2 linked regions of the Homo sapiens genome follow. The protein of the gene in region 2 interacts with the protein of the main gene of each other region in a pairwise test. Each region holds a gene or a part of one and is shown on either strand. Other genes may lie near its edges.

The links. Proteins that work in one complex are often made in the same cells at the same time.
Region 1: the proteins of CARF (region 2) and ZBTB38 interact in binary tests that used the Homo sapiens proteins (3 or more experiments, as listed by UniProt).

What each region holds. Positions count from the first base shown.
Region 1 is NC_000003.12:141,371,469-141,378,503, reverse strand, and holds part of ZBTB38 (zinc finger and BTB domain-containing protein 38), read right to left. Parts: intron 1-7,035. UniProt on the Homo sapiens protein: Transcriptional regulator with bimodal DNA-binding specificity. Binds with a higher affinity to methylated CpG dinucleotides in the consensus sequence 5'-CGCG-3' but can also bind to E-box elements (5'-CACGTG-3').
Region 2 is NC_000002.12:202,907,615-202,915,280, reverse strand, and holds the start of CARF (calcium-responsive transcription factor), read right to left. Parts: upstream 3,007-7,666; 5' UTR 2,179-3,006; exon of another isoform or gene 2,167-2,178; intron 1-2,166. Other genes in the region: ribosome biogenesis protein WDR12, read left to right, coding at 3,805-3,845, 7,322-7,416. UniProt on the Homo sapiens protein: Acts as a transcriptional activator that mediates the calcium- and neuron-selective induction of BDNF exon III transcription. Binds to the consensus calcium-response element CaRE1 5'-CTATTTCGAG-3' sequence.

The DNA.
Region 1 (7,035 bases), on a different chromosome or scaffold from region 2:
CACCTTCCCCCAGTGTTGTCTTACATCGCTGTAGTACTTGGGCTAAACCAAGAAACAGATGCTGGTATAGTTCAAATAAACGCAGATACAGTCTTATGTGATTTTACCAGTTTTTACATGCACTCTGTGTGTGTGTGTGTGTACCTGTATGTCTACAGTTCTATGCAACGTATCACATGTGCAGGCTGGAGTGATGACCATCACCATCAGAATAGAGAATAGTCACCACCACAGTTCCCTGTGCTCCTCCTCTGATAATCACACCCATCCTGACAACCACTGATCTGTTCTCTATCACTGTAATTTTTTTTTTTTTTTGCTTGTTGAGACAGGGTCTCGCTCTGTCACCCAGGCTGGGGGTGCAATGGCAAAATCATGGCTTACTGCAGCCTCAAACTCCTGGGCTCAAGCAGTCTTCCCATCTCAGCCTCTCAAGTAGCTGAGACCACAGGTGCACGCCCACATATCCCGCTAGTTTTGTAAATTTTTGTAGAGATGCGGGTCTCCCTGTGTTACCCTGGCTGGTCTCGAACTCCTGGGCACTCCTGCCTCAGCCTCCCAAAGTGCTGGGATTACAAGCATGAGCCACCGTGCATGGCCTATCACTGTGATTTTGTCAGTCCAAGAACGTTCTCTAAATGGAATCATGTAGCATATAACTCTTTGAGATTGGCTTTCAGCATAATGCCCTTGTGATCCATTTGAATTGTATGTAAAGAGCACATGCCTTTTTATTGCTGAATAGTATTTCAAGGTGTGGATGTACCAGTGTGTTACCCACTAACTTGCTGAAAAACATTTGGCTATTTTCCAGTTTTTAGGTATTACAAATAAAGCTGCTATAAATGTTCATGTAAAGTTTATTGCGTGAACATAAGTTTTCATTTCTCTTGTGTAAATACCCATGAGTAGGATTGCTGGATCACGTGGTAAGTATATGTTTAACTTTTATAAGAAACTGCCAAACAGTTTCCTAGAGTGGCTGTACCATTTTACATTCCTACAGGCAATGTAGGAGAGATCCAGTGTCCCCACATGTTTGCCAGCATTTGGTAACCTCAGTATTTTTTATTTAAGCCATCTACTAGATGTGTCGGGCTCCTTTTGATGGGCCACAGTCAAGAAGGCAGTTAAGCTCTGTGGCCTTCTGAGCTTAGCTGGGGTGACCTCAGATGTCTCTCATTGCTCCAGTTTTCCTGGTAGCTGTCTACACAGCAGTTTGGGCTGTCTGGCACTTAGGCGATGGAAAATGGGATGGTCTTTCTGGATGGGGGGGCTGAGTCTTTGGGTTTGCCCAGTTGCTCCTGACTGCAGTGGTGGGACATTGCTATCTGGGGATGCTGGGCCTCTTTGAGGCAGTGCCTCTTGGCCCAGCAGGAAGACTTGATACCAGTGGTACATGCTCCCATGGGGTAGGGCAGGTGAAATGACAGCTGTGGGGCAGGAACAGAGTTTGCCTGGGCCAGGGTCTTCCTGTAGCTTTGGCCAGAGGCTGTGTGAATACTTTTAATTTCTCAGGTTAGATCGTTATCAGCATAGTGTGAGAGGAAGTGGGACATGGAATCAATGTAGAGAGGCAAGGGTGGGACCACCAGTAGCACTTGTCAAATCTTGGGACCCACTGAACAATCTTTGCCCTTGAACTTTGTACTCTGTGACCACCCAAGACTCTCCAGCAGCATGTGGACACCTTGTCTGGATGCCATGGAACTCCTATTTTTGTCTCCTGTGGGTGAGATTTGGAAGCACTGCTGTCACCACCACATGGGCTTTCCTGGCCCAGGGGTCCAGGTCTCGTGAGCAATTAGAATGTCATCTGAGTATCAGAGGTGCTTCACTCAAGAAAGTTGTGCAGGACAACAAGGTGATGGGTTTTACATAAGGCAAACATTATAGTGAAGACTTGAACCGGCCCAGGCATTCTTGGAAAGTCACCCTCCATCTGATTCAAGGTACCTCTGGTTCAAGGGAGGTTGTAGACTTTTCCAGAACTCTTACTCATCATGACCCTGGAGCCATGAGTTTGGACTAGGAGGCCAAGAATCAGGAGAGTAGTGATCCTGAACAGGGATAACCTTGAGATAATGGAGACTTGCATGGGGCAGTGAAGCTTGGGGATCATCAACAAAATTCCCTGGTGGCTAAGCCCTGGGAGGATCCTGTGGAGGAGCTCCTTTGGGTTCTGGCTCTTGTGTGTCACCAGGTGCCTTTGCAGGGGATCAGCATAGATGTAGGCATGGAGGAAACTAAAGTTGATTTCAAGAACCTGAACGTGAACTGGGGCGGGTAGGGAGCTGAGCAGTCTGTCCAGGCAGAACTTGAAAGTCAAGTGATGCCTTGGTGGGCTCTGGAAATTGAGGTGGTGGGATGAGAGGAAGCCGGGCAGTCAGACACTGTCAGGTGATCAGTGGGTGTGGGTTGATGGGTTTCAGCAGGGTTATGCAGGCAGGATGAATAGTCAGACTTCCTCTTAGAGGATGGTGAGAGTTTAAAGAAAATGGTTTTTTGTTGCTATAATTGTTTTTTCCATTGTTTCCTAAATTTCCATTTTCAGGTTCCTCCTGCTCTGGCCTGCCGCCTCTCAGGCTGTGCTCCTACTCTCCTGCTGTCAGAAGGCAGCCCAGCACACAGCACCTTTCAGATTTAAAAAGGCAGGCACGGCTTGGGGCAGGTACCTCCCCTGACTGTGAGGTCACACAGTGGGACTCCATCCTTGAGGCCAAATCCTCAGCAGTTCCCCTCTAGCTCTTGCTTGTCTTCCTTTCAACTCATCCCTGCCTTGACCTCAAATTTGCCCACATATTTTAGTCTGGCACTTGCCCTGACCCTGCTCCGCTGTCTTGGTTTCTGACCCCAGATCCCACCTCCTACTCTGCTCTTGTGATGCTGATCACATGGATGCTGCCTGCACGGCTGCCCTCTGTCCTCCTGGGTCCAGCTTCTTCAGTGCTACCACCTCAGGGATCAGGGCACACCACAGTCTGGCCCCATTAGGTGACCAAGATGGGCACGTGGGCCCCTTGCTAGGTCTAGGCTGCCCAAGAGTGTCTTGAAGTACGGGCATGCCTATCTGAGGGCAGGTAAGAGCTCCTTGGCTGAGGCAGGGCGTTGCCTCAGGAGTGAATCTTCTCATTGGCGCCTTTTGTCTCTTACCTAAAGGTTGGGTGACTCTGGGCCCTTTGTCTAGTTCAACCTTTGCCATTAAATCTCTGAGTGACCACCAGGAAGTAAATGAACCATTATGGGCCTCAGTGATTTCATGTGTACAATATGGTTTCTTGATTCCCTAGCTAATAATCTTTTTACTACATCATATTACAGTTAAAGGAAAATCTAAAAATCAGAAGCCAAAAAAAGACTTTAAGTTAAATTCTGGCATAGACATACTAGCTCAGAGTTTCCTAATTTTTTTTGTCTAATAAATGTTTGCCAACTGAATATTTGTTGAACTGAATGCAGCATGTCAATAGTTCTCAGGCATTAATGCAGAAGAATTGGGAGGGCAGGTTAAAATGCATATCCCCAGGCTCCTCCTCAGAGCTTCCAATACCACTGGGGCCTAGCAGCATGCATTTTAATGTGAGAAACTAAAAAAGACCAAGGTTTTGAAATAGACATTCGTACCTTTCTAGGGGCCAATTCACCAATATGCATTAGAAACTTTAAAAATAGTAGAACACTAAAGTGAATCAAAATGTCCAACAACAAAAAACTGATACATTAAAATGTATCAGTGCAATGGAAATAGAGCCATTAAAAATCATGTTTTCAAAGACCATCTAGTGATTTGGTAAAATGTTTACAACATAATGTTAAATGGGGGCAAAACACCACATAAAATACCATCTCAACAATTTTTAACATTTTGATGTATTTTTTCCAATTTTTTTCTTGTATATATTCTTCTCTCTTTTTAAAAAGGAGAGAATGGGGTGGGGTTGGGGTGAGGGGTTATACTAATGCTCTTTTGGACAAAGATGAGGGGTCCACTCTCTCCACTCTGGCTTGGAAGGCACTACCCAAGGTCAATGCCTCCGTGGAGGAGTTTCCAAGCCTCCTTATCCCAATGCACTGGGAGCCCCATAGAATGCCAGGAATCATCTTCTTTTGGCAGAGAGATGACTCATCCATCATTCCTCAAAGGTTTCAGTGAACCCCAGGTTAAATGTCCCTGTGAATAAGATCAGAAGCCTCTCCATGGGGAGTCTGGCCTACAATCAAACATGCTTTGGCTAGTTAGAAGTGATGCTAAGGCTCCCAGATGAAAGTCAATTTAGAAAGACAAAAAAATCTTTAAAATAATGATAATAACAATATCAAAAGTCAAAGCACCAATACTGACCATAATTATGATGATTATTTTTTATCAACACTTTTTTTTTTTTTTCCTCTGTTGCCTAGGCTGGAGTACAGTGGCCCAGTCGTGGCTCACCACAACCTCCGCCTCCTGGGTTCAACCAATTCTCATACCTCAGCCTCCCAAGAAGCTGGGATTACAGGCATGTGCCACCAAGCCCAGCTAATTTTTGTATTTTTAGTAGAGGCAGGGCTTCACGATTTTGGCTGGGCTGGTCTTGAACTCCTGGCCTCAAGCAATCTGCGCACCTCAGCCTCCCAAAGTGCTGGGATTTCCGGTGTGAGCCACCACTCCCGGCCTTTATCAGCAGTTTACCTTGACATGCACTTTTCTAAGTTGCCCATATCATTTTGCATATATCACCTACTTATTCTGACAGAGTCTCAGCATTACATTTTCTAACAATACTATTTTGGAGGTAGGAGGGAGCTTTAAAGTTCTGATGAAAACCAGAAGCTTCTTGAGTTAAAAACAAAACCCTGAAGTGTGGTATTTTCCAACTTGGTTCTTGACAAGAAATTAGGGGATTTCAGTGTGAGAAATTATAAAGCCCTATTACTATGAATTCTTAGTTTTGGTGAATATGATGTGGTATTTCTGCAAAACTCTCTAAGGAGAGTGACAGAACATTCATGATGCTGACCCATGGGGAGAAAGGAGCTTGCACACCTGTGCTATGACAATTCTAAAACCTCAGGGATTAAAATACTCAACTAGTGTAAGAGCTGCCTGTGTGAGACTGTGTGCTCAGTCCACATCTGCTCATCATGGCTCAACAAGGCCAGGCTCAGATCTTTAGATGACCTAAGCTCTGAAAAGACTATAGTGCCTCAAATTTGAATTATTACTCCCATGTGAAATTAAAATAGAAAAAAATAACAAAATACAAAATTAAGGTTGAGAAAGCTCAACAAAGTCTAACTTTTCCCAGGCTGTCTCCTTTGATGCTTTTTTTGAAATGTCAAATATCAAAATATTTACAAAATGTGTGTTTGTACACAATCCTGCTTTGCTGATGTTGTCTGTGAGGTCACTCAGCATCCAGTGGTCACAGGGATCTATGGCTTTCTTTCAAACACAAAGTGTTGACAGTAGTGAAATTCTGGTACCTGATGTGGTGGTCTTACTCCCCTTCCTGTAGTAATATGCAGCTAGAAATTAGAAATCAGGAGGCTGGCCCCCTCCCCCAACCCTAACACCATTCATATGTCAACTACTGCATACTTAGTGCTTTGAGGAGTCATAACAGATGGTAGTTGAAATTAGCAAGCTGTGATTAGCCATTCTCCCACATGAATGGACCCTGATGTTGACTGAGACCTTTGGCTCTGCCCTTCCTGAAAGACTCTGTTAGGCTAGGACTTCCAGCAACACATCATCCCCATTTGGCTCCAGCTTTTGAAATCTGGCACATATTCTTAACTTATTCCTTCAACTGCACCCTTCTAGCAGGCACTGTATTCCCCATTCACCTGGTCTTTTTTTTTTTTTTTGGAGATGGAGTTTCTCTCTTGTTGCCCAGGCCGGAGTCCTGTGGTGTGATCTCGGTTCACTGCAACCTCTGCCTCCCAGGTTCAAGCAATTCCCCTGCCTCAGCCTCCCAAGTAGCTGGGATTATAGGTGTGCGCCACCCTGCTCGGCTAATTTTGTATTTTTTTTTAGTAGAGATGGGGTTTCACCATGTTGGTCAGGCTGGTCTTGAACTCCTGACCTCAAGTGATCCACCTGCCTCGGCCTCCCAAAGTGCAGGGATTATAGGCATGAGCCACCATGCCCAGCCCAACCTGGTCTTATCATTAGCTTATACCACTAGCCCAGCCAGCTCCCCGATCAATAGACACTTTCAGTTCCTAACAACTTGGAAAGACAGACTTTCAGAGGCTGAAGTATTTTTGCAGCAACTCATCTTGTTATTCTATTCCATTCCTCCTCAGCTCCATCCTAATGTAAGGGGACTGGGCAGAGGCTAGGCAGCCATAACAGGAGAGTAGGCCAGGCATCAGCCTCTGTCAGATATCTGAGAAGCTGTGGCAAATTGGCCAGTAACAGGTATCCCCACACAACAGACAATACATGCTCTTCAGGGTGTGGATGTGGGTGCCAGAAAGGTCAAGTCCAGGGGCAAAAGTCAATCAGAAACCAGAGTGTTTAGTCAGATATTGACAAAACTAGAGAACTAGGTACCAGGCACCTCAGGCAAAGACTTGAGTTCATTTTTATTTCACACCTTTAAGTCTGGGGCATCACAAGGCACCCATCATATGGTTTATATTTACGAATGAGGGGAATACTTCACCAACATCAACAATGGTTAGAAGGTTACATAAAATGTTAAACTTATTAAAAGTTCTCCAAACAGAGCTTACAACTTTACCACTTATTATTTCAGTAAATGTTTTGAAACTTTTCCTGAAAATAAAAAGCTAGACATATATATCACATCTTTTGGGGTAGCATTAATAGCCCCAGCCTGAGACTTTTTAGTCTACTTTTAAATGTTTCTCGGCTGGGCCCGGTGGCTCATGCCTGTTATCCTAGCACTTTGGGAGGCCAAGGTGGGTGGTGGATTGCTTGAGCCCAGGAGTTCAAGACCAGCCTGGGCAACATGGTGAAACCTTGTTTCTACAAAAAATACAAAAATTAGCCAGGCATGGTGACACATGCCTGTAGTCTCAGCT
Region 2 (7,666 bases):
CACTTTTGAAGGCCGAGGTGGGAAGATCACAAGGTCAGGGGATCGAGACCATCCCGGCCAACATGGTGAAACCCCTTCTCTACTAAAATACAAAAAATTAGCCGGGCATGGTGGCAGGCACCTGTAGTCCCAGCTACTCGGGAAGCTGAGGCAGGAGAATCGCTTCAACCTGGAAGGCGGAGGTTGCAGTGAGCTAAGATAGCGCCACTGCACTCCAGCCTCGCGACAGAGGGAGACTCTGAAAAAAAACAAAAAACCAAAAACAAAACAACAAACACCACCACCACCACCAAAAAACCCTCCAACTCAAAAAATAAAAAAATAAAAAAAAGCACTTTTTAATTTTCAGGGAAAAAAAATCTAAGGCTGGTGTTCACAATGTCAATTTTATTTATGGTTTATTCTCACTATAAGCTTCCCTGCAATCCATTTCTACCCATGTTTTACTCTGCACAAACTTTTTACCTTTTTGCTCTGATTTTTTGTTTGTTTTTTTTTTTTGAGATGGAGTTTCACTCTTTTTGCCCAGGCTGGAGTGAAGTGGCGTGATCTTGGCTTACTGCAAACTCCACCTTCCAGGTTCAAGCAATTCTCCTGCCTCAGCCTCCCCAGTAGCTCGGATTATAGGCACCCCCCACCATGCCTGGCCAATTTTTGTATTTTTAGCAGAGACGGGGTTTCACCATGTTGGCCAGGCTGGTCTCAAACTCCTGACCTCAGGTGCTCCACCCGCCTCAGCCACCCAAAATGCTGGGATTAGGCTGCTCTTTGAGAGCTTTACAAATTTATTTAATCCTTACAATGACTCTGAGGTAGATCTTCTTGTCTCTGTTTGTAGATAAGAAAACTGGAACTGTCAAGAAACTTGCTTAAGATCACAGAGTGCATTAGGCTTGGATCCATAATCAAATTGGAAAAAAAGAAAAACACAAAGAACAATTAAGACTCCAAAGCCCTAATGCATAGTCTTTGTATCCTATCACACTGTGGCATTATATATATAAAACAAAAAACTTTATAATAAAGAGAAATGTATTTTCCAAACTGTGGTTCTCCAGATAACAATGTGTCTCCATGAGGACCATATAGTAAATACATCCCATAAAAAATGATTACCAACCAAAAGCTTGCAATTAATGTTCCAACTAAAGAAAAAGACTCAAAGTAAAAGCATCAGCTATCCTAGGTACTGTTTGGAGGCAACACCAAACACGACACATAAATCATTGTTGAAAAAAACCGTAAAACATAATGCTGGGTATTTAGTTATGTTGAATGCTAAAACTAATCTTTCCTTAACTAAAGGTCTCCGTCAAATGAAAAGTGTATTTTAGTCAAGTCAGGATTTCTGTTTTGCAAACTGAAAGTCTTATATTATTAAGCATATATTCAGGTTATTTTCCTGATCATAATTTTCAAATCAAATTAAGATCAAACTCTACTGTCAGGTACTGTATATTCTCATTTTGATAAATTTCAAATTAATGATAAAAATGTATTAACCTGCTGGTCAATTATACATTTTATAAATATATTTTAACCAATGACATATTACCAGTAAGTACAGATTCAACGGCAAGATTTCATTAAGAAAGTGTTTCAAGCTTCAGATGCCCAAGACTTATTTAATGTGTAAATCCTCACCACTACAATAACCACATGGTTAAACGATCACCACTTCCATTAGCAAGCTCAAGCCTAATAAGTGATCTCCTGGGACTTCAGCACAGAGGTTTTCTAATTTTATTCCTCCACTCAATGTGGCTATTCTCCCTTATCTATTCACGCTGGCAAAGCTTCTAGTTAAACTGGAATTAGTAACTATTTGATGATAATAATTAACATATACTGAGTGCTTCCGATGCCGCAGTTAATTCTTATAGTTGATAAAAGTGTGGCACAAAAAGGTTAATCAAGTAGCAGAGGCAGGATTTGAACCCAGGAATTCTGGTTCCAGGGCCCGGATTCGGAGCTACAAAGGTGAGTAAACTGAAAAGAGTCCTACTTTTATTGTCATTGCTCTCTAATAAAAATTATTTTTTCTTCCAATTGTTTAAATCTCTTCTCATTCTCTATTTAAATATTAGGCGTTCATTTAAACATTAGGCGTCTACCTTACAGTAGGACATCTTTAAACAACGTAAAAAAGGAAAGCTTTGTCTTCACCTGCACACATACCGGTCTGCCCATAAATTTTGCAATCCAGTTCTGCCTGATTCTAAACTGCTTGTCTCTTGAAGCGAATGCCTTAAAAAGTGACATTGGGATCAGGATAGTTATCTCCATCCATCCTCCCTCAGAAAAACAACTATATTAGAGTAATTCTTGGGACCATTGAGAACAATACACAGGCCTTTGGGTAACTTCAAGACAAAAAAGGCAAAAAGTCGGGGAGAAGGTGTGGGAGGATGATTTTCCCCTTCTAAACGTAAGGTATAAAAGGGCTCAGAAAGCGGAAAAAGAACCCTAAAAAGCAAGGTGCGGGACGGCGTGAGGGACCACACATTGGGCGCTCCGCCCAAGGGGTCCGGCTCCTTCTCCGCGGCGATGGCGCGTCCTTGGGCTCAGCAACCCTCCTGAAGACACCTAACCTCCTCCTTCTCCAGCCTGCCCCTCTGGGGCCTGCGAGCCCCGTCCCGGGCCGGGGGTCGGAAGCCGTGCCATGTGGGACCCCGAAAAGGCCCCCAAGCTTGGCGCGGAAGGCGCCGCCAGTGACCGGCTGCGGCTGGGGGCGGAGGCCGGCAGTTGCTCGGAGCTCCGGCGGGTCAGGAGGTGACGGGAGGAGGAGGAGGCAGGAGGAAGACGGGGGGTTGGGAGGTAGCGTCCGGTAGGTCTGCGCAGACAGCGCTGCCAGACCTCTGACTCCCCCAGTCCTGCCGCCGCCGATAGCCCCACAAGGCGACATGGGAAGTCCGCCGGAGCAGAGGGGAGAAAATTCAAAACGAGTCTACTCAACCTCGTCTTGGCTCCGAGGCCCCGCCATGGAGACCAGCATAATGCGCAGGCGCGCCCCACCGGGAGCGCGCAGAGCAGTCCCACGACAGTAGGACCACTATCGGCCACCGTCGACCGTTTCCTCTCTCATCCGTTCTTTTCTTTGTATTTCCGCCTCTCGCCTCTCTCTAAAAGCCGCAGTTAGAGGCGAGATTTAGGAAAAACCTCTGCCGAGTGAGCCTCTGGTTGGGAATATGTATGAGAAAAAAAAACTGGCAAGGCGTTAGTCAAGCAAAGCTGAAGGCAGAGGAAATTTGATATCTGGCTGGAGTCTAGAGGATTTAATGCAAATAAGATACTCTGAGGGCAGCGTGGCAAAAAAAGACTACAATTCCCGGTGGTCACAGCGTTTGAGAAGCGATGCTTTCTGAGACTTGTAGTAACTAGGAGCTGTGTTTGAACTATCCAGGCTCAGGACAGCCTCTTGAAAAAAAATTTTTTATTAATAAAGCGGATTTGAGTGGGATCTTTTTCCTAATCGATTACGGGCCCACACGTATGGGAAGAATTCTAACAATGATTAAAGGGACATGCTACCTTTACGACTATCCTTTTCTAATCGATGACTCCTAAATCTAGGAGTAGGTAGTCGATGTTTGTGGTCTGGGCGTCTGTAGAAGGGCAACCTCGTGCTTTCTGCAGAGGAGACCGGAGGGCAGAAGGCAGAGTCCAGGCTTAGACTGCAGTTCCTCGCTTACCTGTGCAGTCTAATTTTGAGCTGCCTCTTTGTAGTCTTAAAAGGCAGGAGCTTCGTGTTGTGGGTCTGCTAACCCGTACGTTTCCGTGGGCAAGTCGTGTGTACTCCTCGCCATGGCTCAGCTCCAAACACGCTTCTACACTGATAACAAGAAGTAAGTAAGCGTTCCAGCCTTCTCTCCCTTCCCCAGGTTCCTTTCCGACCACCCCTTTGGTATGACCTTGTGGATCCCTGGTTGTTTCTGCTGTCACCCCCACCCTTTTTTCTGAGATTACCTGCTTTCTAACCAGCTTCGTAGGTTCTATATAATTTGAATTGTGAGTGTGGAGGAGGCTGAAGGGCTTCAGGTTTGCTTTCTGAATGAAACATTTTATATGTGTAATTTAAAAATGAACAGTGGGCCTTGTTATAGGGTGTCTGCTAGTGGTGGTTCACAGTTTTTGAAAACGGAAAAAAAGTTTTTGAAAATGAAAAAACATATTTACCATTTATGTATATCTATATAGATATATAAACATTTTAACCAGTGGTCTCAAGGTCTGTTAGCACTCATTCGAAAACTAATTATATGCTGCCTTGTGGTATATATTGCATTGTTAGCTTTCTTTGTGTTTGCCTGGTCTCTTCCAACTATATTGGAAGTCTCTTGAGGGCAGGGACTATATATTAATTAAGCTTCTTGGATTGGCTGAGTCAACAAAAAATGTCAAATTTTTCAGTGAAAATGATAATATTTGTCGTGTTAATAAGCTAAAGTTAGCCATAAACTAGGAAACTCCCACCTGAGTTACATCTGTGGTTTTGTTTGTAGCTTTATGAGGAGAGCTAGTAAATCATCTTCTCTCCCCTTGTGTTGTTGCTGAAAGTATACATAAATCGTATTATCAATGCACCTGAGTATATGTACTTACTTACATACATTGCCTTAATACTTCTCTAGGAATGTGGTGATGCATTAACATAACCACTGTGTTTTTTAATTGAAAGTAGGTTTTTTTGTTTTTCTTAAAATAAAATTTTTTGAAATATGTGGGGCTTTTTTTTGTTTGTTTGGTTTGGTTTTTTTGGAGACAGAGTCTCACTCTGTTGCCCAGGCTGGACTGCAGTGGTGGGATCTTGGCTCACTGTAACCTCTGTCTCCCGGGTTCAAACAATCTTCCCGCCTCAGCCTCCAGAGTAGCTGGAATTACAGGCATGTGCCACCAAGCCTGGCTAATTTTTGTATTTTTAGTAGAGACAGGAATTTGTCTTGGTGGCCATGCTGGTCTCGAACTCCTGGCCTCAAGTGATCCGCCCACCTCGGTCTCCCAAAGTCCTGGAATTACAGGCATGACCCACTGCGTCCAGCCTTGAGATAATTGTTGATTCACATGAAGTTGTAAGAGATAATAGGCCACTGTGTTTTAACCCCTGAAATGAATGGATACATGTCATATGTGTGTGTGTGAATTTAGGCCCTCCAAAAGGTAAAAAAATGTAGAAATTAAAATTCTTTGCCGAGTGCTGTGGCTCATGTCTGTAATCCCAACAGTCTGGGAGGCTGAGGAACGCAAATCGCTTATCTCAGGAGTTTGAGACCAGCCTGAGCAACATGATGAAACCCCGTCTCTACCAAAAATACAAAAAATTTGCCAGGCATGGTGGTGCCCACCTGTGGTCCCAGCTACTTGGGAGGCTGAGGTGGGAGGATCTCTTGAGCCTGAGAGGCAGAGGTTGCAGTGAGCCAGGATCAATGCAACTGCACTCCAGCCTGGGGAACATAGTGAGACTCTATCTCAAATAAATAAATAAATAAATAAATAAATAATAAAATTCTTGCTTTTTCTTTTTGCTTAATATTATGGTCAGTAAAATGGAGGCGGGGGGCTAATATAATTGTCACACACACACACAAGAATATACATATATGTGAATTATATACATAAATATATAGCTATAGCCTTATTGCTCAAAGTGTGGTTTGAGGATCATCAGCATCATATTTGCAAAGTTGTGCAACCATCACCACAGTCAATTTTAGAACATTTTTCATCATCCTTGAGCTGTTTGTTAAATAATACCCCCAGCCCTAGGCAACCACTGATCTACTTTCTAGCTCTGTAACTTTCTCTCTTCTGGACGTTTTGAATAAATGGAATTATATAATGTGATCTTTTGTGACTGGCTTCTTTCACTTACTATGATTTTTAAAAAATGGTTTCATTATATCATAGTATATATTAGCACTTCATTCCTTTTTGTGGCCAAATAATAGGCCATTGAATGGAGGTACCATATTTTTCCATTCATCAGCTGGTGGGCATTTAGGTTGTTTATACCTTTTAGCTATTATGAATAGTTGTTATGTGAACACTCGTACAAGTTTTCGTGTGGATGTATGTTTTCGTTTCTCTTGCATATATGCTTAGGAGTGGAGTTTTTGGGTCAGATGTAATTCCATGTTTGAGTTTTTGAGGAACTGCCAGACTGTTTTCCAAAGCAACTGCACCATTTTACGTTACTGCCAGCAATAATCAGGGTTCCAATTGCTCCATATTTTCACTGACACTTGTTATTAGCTGTCTTTTTACTTATAGCACCCTAGTGGATGTGAAATTATATTTCATTGTGTTTGATTAACATTACCTGGATGACTAATGATGAGCATTTGCATGTCCCTATTGGGCCATTTTAAAATTTGTGTTGTCTTTTTATTATTGAGTTGTAAGTGTTCTTAATATAGTCTAGATACAAGTTCCTTATTAGATACATGATTTGCAAATATTTTCTCACAGTCTCTCTTATAAGAGTCTCCTAATCTGCCTCCTGTCATGTGTTCCTCTATTTCAGTGCCCATTGTGCAGCCAGAAAGATCTAACTAAATAAAATCTGATGATACTTCTAATTTGCACTGCTGTGATAGTTCTTCATTACCCACAAAAAAGAAGTAAAAATGATTTCACATGATATATAAAGCACTCCATGTGTATCTCTTTAGCCTTTGGTCACTTTGGAGCAAAGTCAGATTTTCTGGAAGTGGCTGGGCAGTTTAACAACTCCTAGCTATTGTTTTGATGTTCTCTCTGGTTTCGTCCACACTGCTTCTTCCAGCCTACCCTTCCCTCACCTGGCAAAAACTCACTTCTCTTTTGAGACAGGGTCTTGCTGTGTCACCCAGGCTGGAGTGCAGTGCAGTGGTATAATCTCAGCTCACTGCAGCCTCGACCTCCTGGGCTCAGGCAGTCCTCCCACCTCAGCCTCCCAAGTAGCTGGGACTACGGGCACATGCCACCACGCCTGGCTAATCACTTTTCTAAATGTTGCTTAACAGTTATCTTTTCTGTGGATCGTTTCTGGCCCTGCTCCCCTGCCCTCCTTTTCTGTGGTTAAAATGACCTATGGTGTCTTTGTTCTTTTTATACATGTCACCTAATGGCATTGTTCTTATATAACTTCATTCTATTTGATTACTAAACTTCAACCTCATCTTAGAACAGAGACCATGTTTTAATTCATTTTTGTTTACAACATGTAGCAAAATGTCTGGATGTCTGGCATTTATTTACCCAATAAATGTATGTTGAATTCGTAAAAGCATGTTTGTTCAAATATCTGTAGACTTGATCTTGACATATCATTTCCTTTTTATAGATATGCCGTAGATGATGTTCCCTTCTCAATCCCTGCTGCCTCTGAAATTGCCGACCTTAGTAACATCATCAATAAACTACTAAAGGACAAAAATGGTGGGTATATATGCTTAGGAGAGGGCACAGTGTCCCTAATTATTCTAAAATGCATTAAGTTTTTAGTTCCTTTTTTGGCCTTATGATACTGTATGAATTTTGTAGTGGTAAAATTTGTAAGTTATAAAGTACAGGTTCTTCTGCTGGATGATACTGTAAATACTGCTTTGAAAGAAAAGTTTTCAGAAAAAAATTTCTGTTTAATCTGTTTTTAAGGCCATGTGGAAATATGGTGGTTGTAGTTAAGGAA